Linked DNA regions of Homo sapiens. Changing the gene in region 2 together with the main gene of any one other region gives a genetic interaction. Each region holds a gene or a part of one and is shown on either strand. Other genes may lie near its edges. The genes, in order: MRPL32, LARS1 and KRAS.

The links.
Region 1: changes in LARS1 (region 2) and MRPL32 together harm fitness less than expected from each alone (positive genetic interaction), as found in Homo sapiens cells (one large-scale study listed by BioGRID).
Region 3: changes in LARS1 (region 2) and KRAS are lethal when combined (synthetic lethality), as found in Homo sapiens cells (2 studies listed by BioGRID, with this or other methods).

The regions. Positions count from the first base shown.
Region 1 is NC_000007.14:42,935,376-42,938,515, forward strand, and holds the end of MRPL32 (large ribosomal subunit protein bL32m precursor), read left to right. Parts: intron 1-1,788; exon of another isoform or gene 1,789-1,866; intron 1,867-1,946; coding exon 1,947-2,201; 3' UTR 2,202-2,482; downstream 2,483-3,140. UniProt on the Homo sapiens protein: Component of the mitochondrial large ribosomal subunit (mt-LSU). The mitochondrial ribosome (mitoribosome) is a large ribonucleoprotein complex responsible for the synthesis of proteins inside mitochondria.
Region 2 is NC_000005.10:146,123,569-146,127,226, reverse strand, and holds part of LARS1 (leucine--tRNA ligase, cytoplasmic), read left to right. Parts: intron 1-681; coding exon 682-792; intron 793-3,140; coding exon 3,141-3,245; intron 3,246-3,658. UniProt on the Homo sapiens protein: Aminoacyl-tRNA synthetase that catalyzes the specific attachment of leucine to its cognate tRNA (tRNA(Leu)).
Region 3 is NC_000012.12:25,219,902-25,223,559, reverse strand, and holds part of KRAS (GTPase KRas), read left to right. Parts: intron 1-3,658. UniProt on the Homo sapiens protein: Ras proteins bind GDP/GTP and possess intrinsic GTPase activity. Plays an important role in the regulation of cell proliferation.

The DNA.
Region 1 (3,140 bases), on a different chromosome or scaffold from region 2:
GAACGAGGCTGTGAGGTGCCTACATGACTTCTGAATTGTGAGCTGTGTCAGTCTTGAGCTGTGTGAGTTTTGAACTACAGATGAGTAAACATCCTAACTATGGCAGAGCCTAGAATTAAAGCTAGAAGCAGTAGGTATACTGAATCTTGGGTTTTACAAGCCCTTACATATTTGTTTTATTTTTTTATCATTTCCAACAAAATACCATGAAGGAAAACCCTAAGATAAGTAATATAATAGCTAACAACAATTAAGTGTCTATGATGTATCTCAGTGCCTTATGTTTATTATATCTCATCATGTCTTATAGCCCTCCAAAGCAAATAAGATATTCTTCATTATTAGGATGAAAAAACTGAGGCAAAAAGAATTTGCCTGTGGTCACACAGCTATGAAGCAGTAGATTTTCGAGCTCTGATTTTTGACCTCATGTTCTTTTAAAGATTTTCTTTGTGTTCTCCTATCCTCAGACAATTTCAGATTCTCCTCGCTGACAACATGGATGTACTGTCTTCATTGATCTAGTAAAGAAAAATTACAGTGTGTATTACCTCTGATCTGTTCATGTATGGTTTTAACAGTTAGGATTTCAGTTACTGTTTACTTCATGGCGTTCCACAACAGCAGCACCATACAGATGAAACTCGAGAACAGAAAGCTGACTTTCATAAGCATCCACATTCTGTTAAGCAAAACCTTAGAACTTAAGCCAGAAAGTATTATTGAGTGATGGTTGGGGCTGAACTTAAATGTAGAACTGAAAAACACTTTATTACTTAAGACTTACAGTAATTCATAAATTTGCTCAAGAGGACGTAAGATTTTAGGAATGAGATCTTGCACTGATCTATTATGTGACTTCCCTGATCGCATTTATTCTGAAGGAATAGTTCTTATCCTGTGCATTTATTTTCTTCCTTGAATTATTTTCTGTTACATACGGTATATAGTGTGTTATGTTGGGTACTTTGATCACGAAAGGAAGACCAGCTGACTGTGGGTGTCTTCATACCTTCAGTTGTGCATGCAATCCAGTTTCCAGTAGTGGAGCAAAATGAGAATATGGTTAGGCAAGTAATATACAAGCCTCTTTCTTCCTTTCAGAAAAGGAAATTCTTTTGTTATCTGCCTCACAAATGTTAGTATATTAATCTTATCAAGTGTTTAAAGCTTCTTTAATGATCCTGTTTAGTATTTTTCTTTGTATTTTCTTTCAAACCTACATCTAGAATAAGTTGATAAATCTTTTAGAGGTTATAATGTTTCTATTTTATATTTAAAGTTGGAGATATATATATATCTATATCTATCTCTATATATATATATATACACACACATATATATATCATTAAAATACCCTAAGAATGTAACATAGAAAATAATTTTACATTAAGGAATAATCAGTGTTCATTTTTAAAAAGAAAAATTATACCATATACGAAACCTGTATTCTGTACAGGAATTTGAATTACACTGTGATAAAAAGAGGAAGCCAAGGAAGTCAACTTGTAATGTTCTTATCTTGTTTTCCCTAAGATAGATTGAAAGACAAAGGGAATTCACTTTTCCTTGGTGTCTTATTTAAGATGCTGATTGTTTGGGTCACTTCATTATGTTGACAAATTCCTTATTTGATATTTAGTATTTGGAGTTAGGGGAAATGAGTATTTCTTTTTTCTTTTTTACATAACTACAACTGCTGTGTTTAAGTAAAGATACCAGATTCAGGTTGGCTGAATTCTAGTTCTAGTTTTTCTCTAATTCAAACTCAGTGTTGCTTGTCTTCAGTCTTCCTGTTAAAGTGAGGTGGAACTAGATGGTGTATGATGACCTCATGTAGCCTGAACATCCTAAGAAAGTTAAAATGTAAGCATTGCTCCTGTCAGTGGTTATTTGTTCGTTATATTGCCTCATGTTAAAATACGTTTTTGTTTATTGTTTTAAAGAACAACATAGACGTTTGTCCTGAATGTGGTCACCTGAAACAGAAACATGTCCTTTGTGCCTACTGCTATGAAAAGGTGTGCAAGGAGACTGCAGAAATCAGACGACAGATAGGGAAGCAAGAAGGGGGCCCTTTTAAGGCTCCCACCATAGAGACTGTGGTGCTGTACACGGGAGAGACACCGTCTGAACAAGATCAGGGCAAGAGGATCATTGAACGAGACAGAAAGCGACCATCCTGGTTCACCCAGAATTGACACCAAAGATGTTAAAAGGGTAACTTCACAGTAAATCATTTCTCCTGAAATAGAGGAAGATTCTTTATGTTGTTGTGCTTGTTTTTAAATCATCAGTATAGTTTAACACATTCTTTCTAAGCAGTTTTGTGTGGGATAATTTGAAGAATATATTATGAGTAAACTCCGAAAATTTTGTTTATCCAAAGGCTCAATGGATTATGTTTCTATTATATACAAGGTTTTAAGTAAACATAAAATTTCCAGAACAAAAATAAAAAATTTAAAATTCATAGCAAAAATTCTGTGTTTTGGCTTTGGTTTTGTTTGCCAGTGCCTTTTCTTAGACAAGAATACTTAACACAGATAACTCCATTTAAGTAACACATGGAAATAGGTTATTATTTGCATTTTTGGTATTGTTTTTTAAGATGGTAGGTGTGGCAGTAAGAATGGTTTTTGTTCTTATTTTTCTCTTAGCAAATTAAAATTGCTTTTGGAGGAAATTACTTTTATGAAACATACTAATTTACTTAGGTGATAGAAGTACTTCTTTACATTTTACATTAAATCAAAATCATATTCAGAATATATGAGATAGCCTATGTTTTGGAAGAGATTATTAGTAAAGATGTGAGCAGATTCCATAGCACACTGAAAATGTGATACGAATGTTCTTTGCATTTTTCTTTTAATATGTCCTTTTAGTTTATTTCACGTTTTATCAATTTTATCTCATTGTAACAATAGGCAATAGGCTCTTTAACTTAACTTTCTTTTTTTTTTTTTTTGAGATGGAGTTTCGCTCTTGTCGCCCAGGCTGGAGTGCAATAGCCTGATCTCAGCTTCACTGCAACCTCCGTCTCCTGGGTTCAAGAGATTCTCCTGTCTTAGTCTCCCAAGTAGCTGAGATTATAGGCGCCTGGCACCACGCCTAGCTAATATTTGTATTTTTAGTAG
Region 2 (3,658 bases):
ATTGTATTATATGTTCCTTTTCATTTAGATTCATTCCCAACCCTTCTTTTACAATAAAGAGAAAACAAGTTGCCCAAAACTTTGAAAAGACCAGTTGCTTTATTTCTCACTCTATTGAGGGGACCGTTAATATTTGTAGAAAGAAATGAATTTAGATTCATTTAAAGCACACTTGGATTGTACTCATCAGTGATATATGATATGGACATTTATTTTTGAGTAGATAGAAATGATTCTGTTTTTAACAGGTCAGTAGCTAGGGATTCTTTTCACAATTGTGGTAACAGTTTCTTCCAAGTGTCCAAAAGCAGACATTATATAAACTTGTATGATAGTTGTGTAATTTTTTATTTTAATATGACTAATAAAATGCTTTTAGAAATTTGAAAACAAGTTTTTATGAGACCATTTAGTTTCTGAACAGGAGAAATATTCAACACAAATCACTTCTTTTTCTCTTCTAAACTAAAAAGTATGTGTTGTTAATTTATAGAGAATAGGAGAGTTCCTTCTGCATTGTTCATTGAGCTTTCACTTCCCCGTGATGCTAGGGCTGGACACTTTTCTGCTGTTCTCTAAGGATTGATAGAGGCCACCATTCTATGCCTGGTCACATCTACTGTTCTGCCTTATTCTTGAGACTTTTTTTTCTACATTACTCTCCCTCCTTCCTTTTCTTAGGCCAATAACGGAAAACTGCCTGACAACAAAGTCATTGCTAGTGAACTAGGCAGTATGCCAGAACTGAAGAAATACATGAAGAAAGTCATGCCATTTGTTGCCATGATTAAGGTAAGCTGTGGACCTTATGCAGCTGTGACCACATGAGCAATGGTTAGATGGGACAATAGAAGGATGGGGAAAAGCCTTGGACATAGTCTCCTGCCAGAAATCTGCTAAAATAGCACTTTTCAATCAATGACTGAGAGAAATGATCTATCAGATTTTGGGTTTACTTGTGGAATTGCTGAGTATGTGAAAAATATTATTGTGGGAGAAAAATTGGTTTAGAATGGCTGCACTGAACTATTCCCTTCATATTCTACCTTCCCTTCTTTCAAACTCTTTTGGCTTACATTAGGCTTATAGAGGCTTGCATTTCCTAGACCCTATTCCTGGAACCAGGATTCAACATTTGTATAGGTATAGCTTAACAGGGTAAACATTGGTTATAGTGGTTAGACCAGGGTGTCTCAGCATAGCTCTGTTGGTATTTTGGGCTAGATAGTTCTTGTGGGGCACTTTCTTGTGCACTGTAGGATATGTAATGGCATCCCTGGCTTCTACTCATTAGAAGCCAGTAGAACTACCTTTCCTGCTAGTTATGACAATGAAAAATATCTCCAGACATTGCCAAATGTCCGCTGGGGGCAGAATCACCTTCCACTTCTTACCATTGAGAATTATTGGGTTAGACCCTTAGTTTTCTTCATATACGTCGCTGATGTATTACTGGATTTCTTGACAAAAAGAAACCGAAAGAAGGCTTATATTGCTTAAGATCGCAGGCTATGGGGCCAGAAAAATCTTGGTTGAAATTCTGTGTATCAGTCACTCCTTAGTTTTGAGACCTTGGACAAATCACTTAAATTTTCTGGGCTACAGGATTTTTCATCCATAAAATGAGGATACTATAGAACCAAACTTTTTAGGAGTGCTGTGAGGAGTAAATAAAATAGTGTACCTAACACACTTAAGTAGCACTAGTCAAGAAGTAGGCTCAGTAAATGTTGTTTAAAAATACAAATTAGTATCTTCCAGCCTACTAAGCATATTGTAGTTATTCTTGTACTGTCCTTTAATTCTTGTGTCTTCTTGGCTGCAGATGCCTGATGGAGACCAGACCTCTTAACTTCTTCAATATTATAATAGATTAGTATTCTTGGAAAAGGTTTTTAATTCTCTTAGACCAAAGTCACTATTTGATCCTCAGGGTATTTTAAGTTTCAGAAGTAATTTAGAATCCTGTGTTGACCTACACTAATCAAGTTGTAATGTAAGTGCTGGTATGTTCATAGTTCGTTGGTTCCCCAGTGGCTAGTGTCATTGGTCATAATGCCAAATCTCTGTCAACATGTGGATCCAACAAAATATTCCATTGATGGTTGCAAAGGCAATTAATTTTGATGACATGTTTTAAAAGAATCCAGGGAAACCTATTTGAAAAGTAGTTATGTGTATATGTATATATATATAGAGTGTGTGTGTGCGTGTGTGTGTGTGTATAAAATGATATTAGATTCAAGAGTTGGCTTCTTTAGGATCTCATTTAAATTTGAAGAACCAGCATCAGACCGTTTGAGTGGTAATATATTTTTAAAATTATGTTGGTGATTTGCCAGGCAAATTAGTGGTTTTGCAAATTTTGGAAGGGATTAATACATCTGGGAATAAGAAAATGACTTTCTAGCACTTCCATGAGAAAAAGAAATAGAACTTGCATAGTAAGCGAAAACAGTGAGTAGCAGGAATAATATCAGGTCACTTTCATTAAGTATAACATGTTCTAGGTAGTTATATCTGCATATGTACTTGGATCTCTAGGATTCTATTTTGCACAGCAAATATTGACTACCCAAGAAAATTAAGAATAAGAAATTATTTTTTACATGCCATGTTTGAGTACTCATGTAGTATGAGTTTTTTTTCTTTAAACTTTGCAGAAATATCTTTGGGGATTTTTTGTTTGGATATTATTAATTCACTATTCTCTGAAACAGCTTTAAGAAGGTGGTATCTCAGAAAATTAAAATTTTGTTTTTTTTGGGTAACTTAAAGGGATATTTTCACACATTTGGCTGATTCCCTGTAAAGTGAATTCTTTGGGCTTGCATGTTAAGTCAGTCTAAATAAACAATCATAAAACCGTATTTATTTTATAAATCTGAAAACCTTGTGCCTTCCCATCTTTTCAGTGCTGCCATAATCTTATAATACTTTAAAAGATAATTATTTGGAGCTAGTAAATTTCATTAACAAGCAAATGTAGGTAAAGGAAATCATGAGTCCAAGGCCTTTCCTTTAACTCCTGAAATCTGAAGATTTTATCAGTTGAGAGAAGAATGATTACTTTGGAGGAAGTATGTTTTCCAACATATTCTTACTGTGATTTTGTTTTTCCATACCATTTTGGCTATTAGGAAAATCTGGAGAAGATGGGGCCTCGTATTCTGGATTTGCAATTAGAATTTGATGAAAAGGCTGTGCTTATGGAGAATATAGTCTATCTGACTAATTCGCTTGAGGTAAGAGGGCCAGGGATTGTAATAACCAGTTAACTGTAGTTAAACCATAATCCAGCTCTTTTATTTTATAATAAACCTTTTTATAAATTTCATCTTCTGTGTTTAGTATCTTTGTTAAATATATTAGTCGAAAATATTTTTGGAGAGAAGAAAAATGGGTGAGTATAAAAGTTGCAGGAAAAAAAGTGATATGTCATCTTATTTCATCAATTCTTAATTTACATATAATCAATTATACATTAAAAAACTGTATATCTGGCTATTCTACTGCAAATTATTTTTAAGAGACCTTATATTCAAATGCTTTCCAAGCCTCTCATGTTATGGAGTACTCTGAATTGTTGCCTTTTTTCCCCCCTCCCTTTTGATTTGCAGAATTGGATTAATTATAATCTTTGGTTTAGAATTGCTGC
Region 3 (3,658 bases), on a different chromosome or scaffold from region 2:
GTACAGATTTATCTGGCAATTTTACTAAAACCTGATTTATAGGTTAAACTTGGTGTATATCATATATCACTTTACTTTAGAGGAATTAAGATTTCACATAAATCCATTTCCAGGTTCCAAAGACCAGGAAGAGGCTTGGTTTTTGTTTTTCTTTTTACTGTCTTTACAGTCTCCTTGACTTTTCTTAGGAGAGAAGGTACTGAGAAAACATGATTCTAATATTTATTATTTTTTCTTCCAACATTTTCTTATGAAACATTTTCAAATACAAAATTGAGTTTTATTTAAAACATTTGCAAATATACTACCTAGATTCTACCATTGTTGTTTTATATTTGCTTTACTTACAACTTTTAAAAGATGCTTTTTATACCACTGAACATTTTAGCTTACATTTCACAAAGAAAAGAAAAAATTTAAGAGACTTTGCATAATGTTTTAAGGGGTTGCAGTAAAGAAGTGCTTCTTATATTTTCTTATGCATACAAATCAGCTGGGCTTATTAAAATCCAGATTCTAATTCAGAAGGTTTAGGTGGGGACCGAGTCTGCATTTCTAACAAACTCCTAGGTGGTATTTTTCTTGGTACTTGGACCATACTTTGAGTAGAAAAGCAGTAGAGGACATAAAAAGAGTCTTGTTAGTCCCACTTTGTTGCTGTCCACTTCTCATTTGATAATATCCTAAAATAGCTGTGTCTCCTTTTTGGTGGTTGTATGATTACTACCTCAGAAGTACTAATTGATTCTTGCTATTTGACCTTAATACTTTAATATAACACAGCATTCATATTTGATCAGAAAACTATCTGGCTTCCTTTTATAAGAGATTTTTAGGTTTTATACAGTTTTGTGGCCTTGGGTTTTTTTGTTTGATTTGTTTTTTTGAAGGTATATAATATGTAAGTAGATAAACAAATTTGATTTGTAGACATTTTTATGTGGATCATCTAATTAAAAATGGAGGGATACAGTATGAAAGAATACTTGTACTTCTTAACAGAGCACTCAACCTTTCTTTTACATCCTGTTTCACTGATGTTATTATGTAATTTATGTTGCTAAACTATAAATTAGATATTTAATTTCTGTTCTTTGATTTCCTTTTATTATTAAATGGACTTGTTGATTTGCCTAGAAATTAATTTGCCTTTCAAAAGTCTTATTAATCTTCCTCCGTTGAAATTAATTTGATATTTGCATGCTTCTGGAAGACTTTAAAGAGCTATTCCGAGTAACTGTAGAGATTATAAAATGAAATATGGGAATTTTAATAAATTTTACATCTCCAGTTACTGGTGAAAATGTCAAGTCCTCCTTTCTGCAGAGTATTTTGTTACTCATCTGTTATTCAGCTTATTTATTTATTTATTTATTTATTTATTTTTCTTTCTTTCTTGTTTTTTTTTTTTGAGACGGAGTCTTGCTTTGTCGCCCAGGCTGGAGTACAGTGGTGGGATCTTGGCTCACTGCAGGCTCCGCCTCCCGGGTTCACACCATTCTTCTGCCTCAGCCTCCCAAGTAGCTGGGACTACAGGCACCCGCCACCATGCCTTGCTAAATTTTTGTATTTTTAGTAGAGACGGGTTTCACTGTGTTAGCCAGGATGGTCTCGATCTCTTGACCTCGTGATCCACCTGCCTCGGCCTCCCAAAGTGCTGGGATTACAGGCATGAGCCACCGCGCCTGGCCCTTATTTGTTTTTTAAACAAAATTAGTGTGCATATCCTTGTTGTATTTTATCGGCAAGTTGTTTTATGCCCTAACTTTTGGGGTCTTGATCATGAGCCTAAAACACGTAAACACCCAAAAAGAATTATATTCCGGTTAAAGGAACAAAACATTCATTTAGAAGTTCTCATCCATGTAAATCAGAGGCTGGCAAATATTTTCTGTAAAGGGCCAAGATAGTAAATGTTTTAGGCTTTGAGGGCCACAAGTGGTATCTGTTGCATTTTTTTTTAATTATGACCCTTTAAAATGCAAAAATCGTTGTTAGCTTGTGCATAGTATAAAAATAGGCTGGCCGCATGCTGTGGCTCATGCCTGTAATCCCAGAAATGAGGTGGGAAGCCGAGGTGGGCACACCACCTGAGGTCAGGAGTTCGAGGCCAGCCTGGCCAACGTGGTTGAAACCCCGTCTCTACTAAAAATACAAAACTTAGCCAGGCGTGGTGGCGGGTGCCTGTTATCCTGGCTACTCAAGGGGCTGAGGCAGTAGAATTGCTTGAACCTGAGAGGCAGAGGCTGTAGTGAGCCCAGATCAAGCCAGTGCACACCAGCCTGGACGACCGAGCGAGACTCTGTCTCAAAAAAAAAAAAAAAAGGCTGTGGCTGCATTTGGTCCATTGGCTGTAATATGCTGATTCCTAATTCTCTGGGTAACTTTAGTGTTTGATTAGCTACTAGAAGTTAGGTTAAACTTTTGTATTTTACAGGCTAACTTTAATAATCTTAAAGTAAAACTTAACATAGTTCATGGAAAGGAAATAGAAATTTTACCCTAGTACTCTTTTTTTTTTTTTTTTTTTTTTTTGAGGCAGAGTCTCCCTCTGTCACCCAGGCTGGAGTGCAGTGGTGGGATCTTGGCTGATTGCAACCTCCTCCTCCTGGGTTCAAGCAATTCTTGTGCCTCAGCCTCCCGAGCAGCTGGGACTACAGGCACGCACCACCACACCTGACTGATTTTTGTATTTTTAGTAGAGACAGGGTTTCGCCATGTTGGCCAGGCTGGTCTTGAACTCCTGGCATCAAGTGATCCTCCCATCTGAGCCTCCCAGTGTGCTGGGATTACAGACGTGAGTCACTGTGCCTGGTCTCTAGTATTTTTTTTTTTTTTGAGACGGTCTCACTGTTGCCAGGCTGGAGTGCAGTGGCGCGATCCTGGCTCACTGCAACCTCCGCTTCCCGGATTCAAGCGATTTTCCTGCCTCAGCCTCCTGAGTAGCTGGGACTATGGGTGCACACCACCACGCCCAGCTAATTTTTGTATTTTTAGTAGAGACGGGGTTTCACCATGTTGGCCAATATGGTCTCAATCTCTTGACCTCGTGATCTGCCCGTCTCGGCCTCCCAAAGTGCTGGGATTACAGGCGTGAGCCACTGTGCCCAGCTGTACTTTTTAAGATAAGAATTGCAGGGTATATATTTTTACCAACTTAATAACTTATAATTTTAAAAAGCTAATTACTTGGCTAGAATATAATGCGTTACATATTCTTTACACTCAGTTCAGTCCATATCTGAAAGGCAAATAGAATTATTTTCTGCTAGTACATTGTGTAGTCCCTATGTTCCTAGTGTATAAGGACTGTTACCTAGTTCACATTTATCTGGGTTGTTGACAGATTTTCCTGGTCCCTTTGGACAGTGCATGGCCATGTTGGCAAAAGCTGTCAAAATTGAAACATTGACACCATGAGAATTGTGTGTTTTCCAGTCTGCTAAAATCAAAAGTGGGAGGGTTCAGTAAGGTGAATAACAGAAGCAGAGTTTTCGGGGTATCTGTTACTCCTCATTCGGCTTTTCTGCTCTCTGGGGGTCTCAATTTAAATATAATGTGAAAATTAGTTTTACGAACCTAAAAATGTTGAGTGATTCATTTCCTGGTTTTGTTGTTAATTTCTAGATATTTAAATTAATTGTTAGAAGAACCCCGT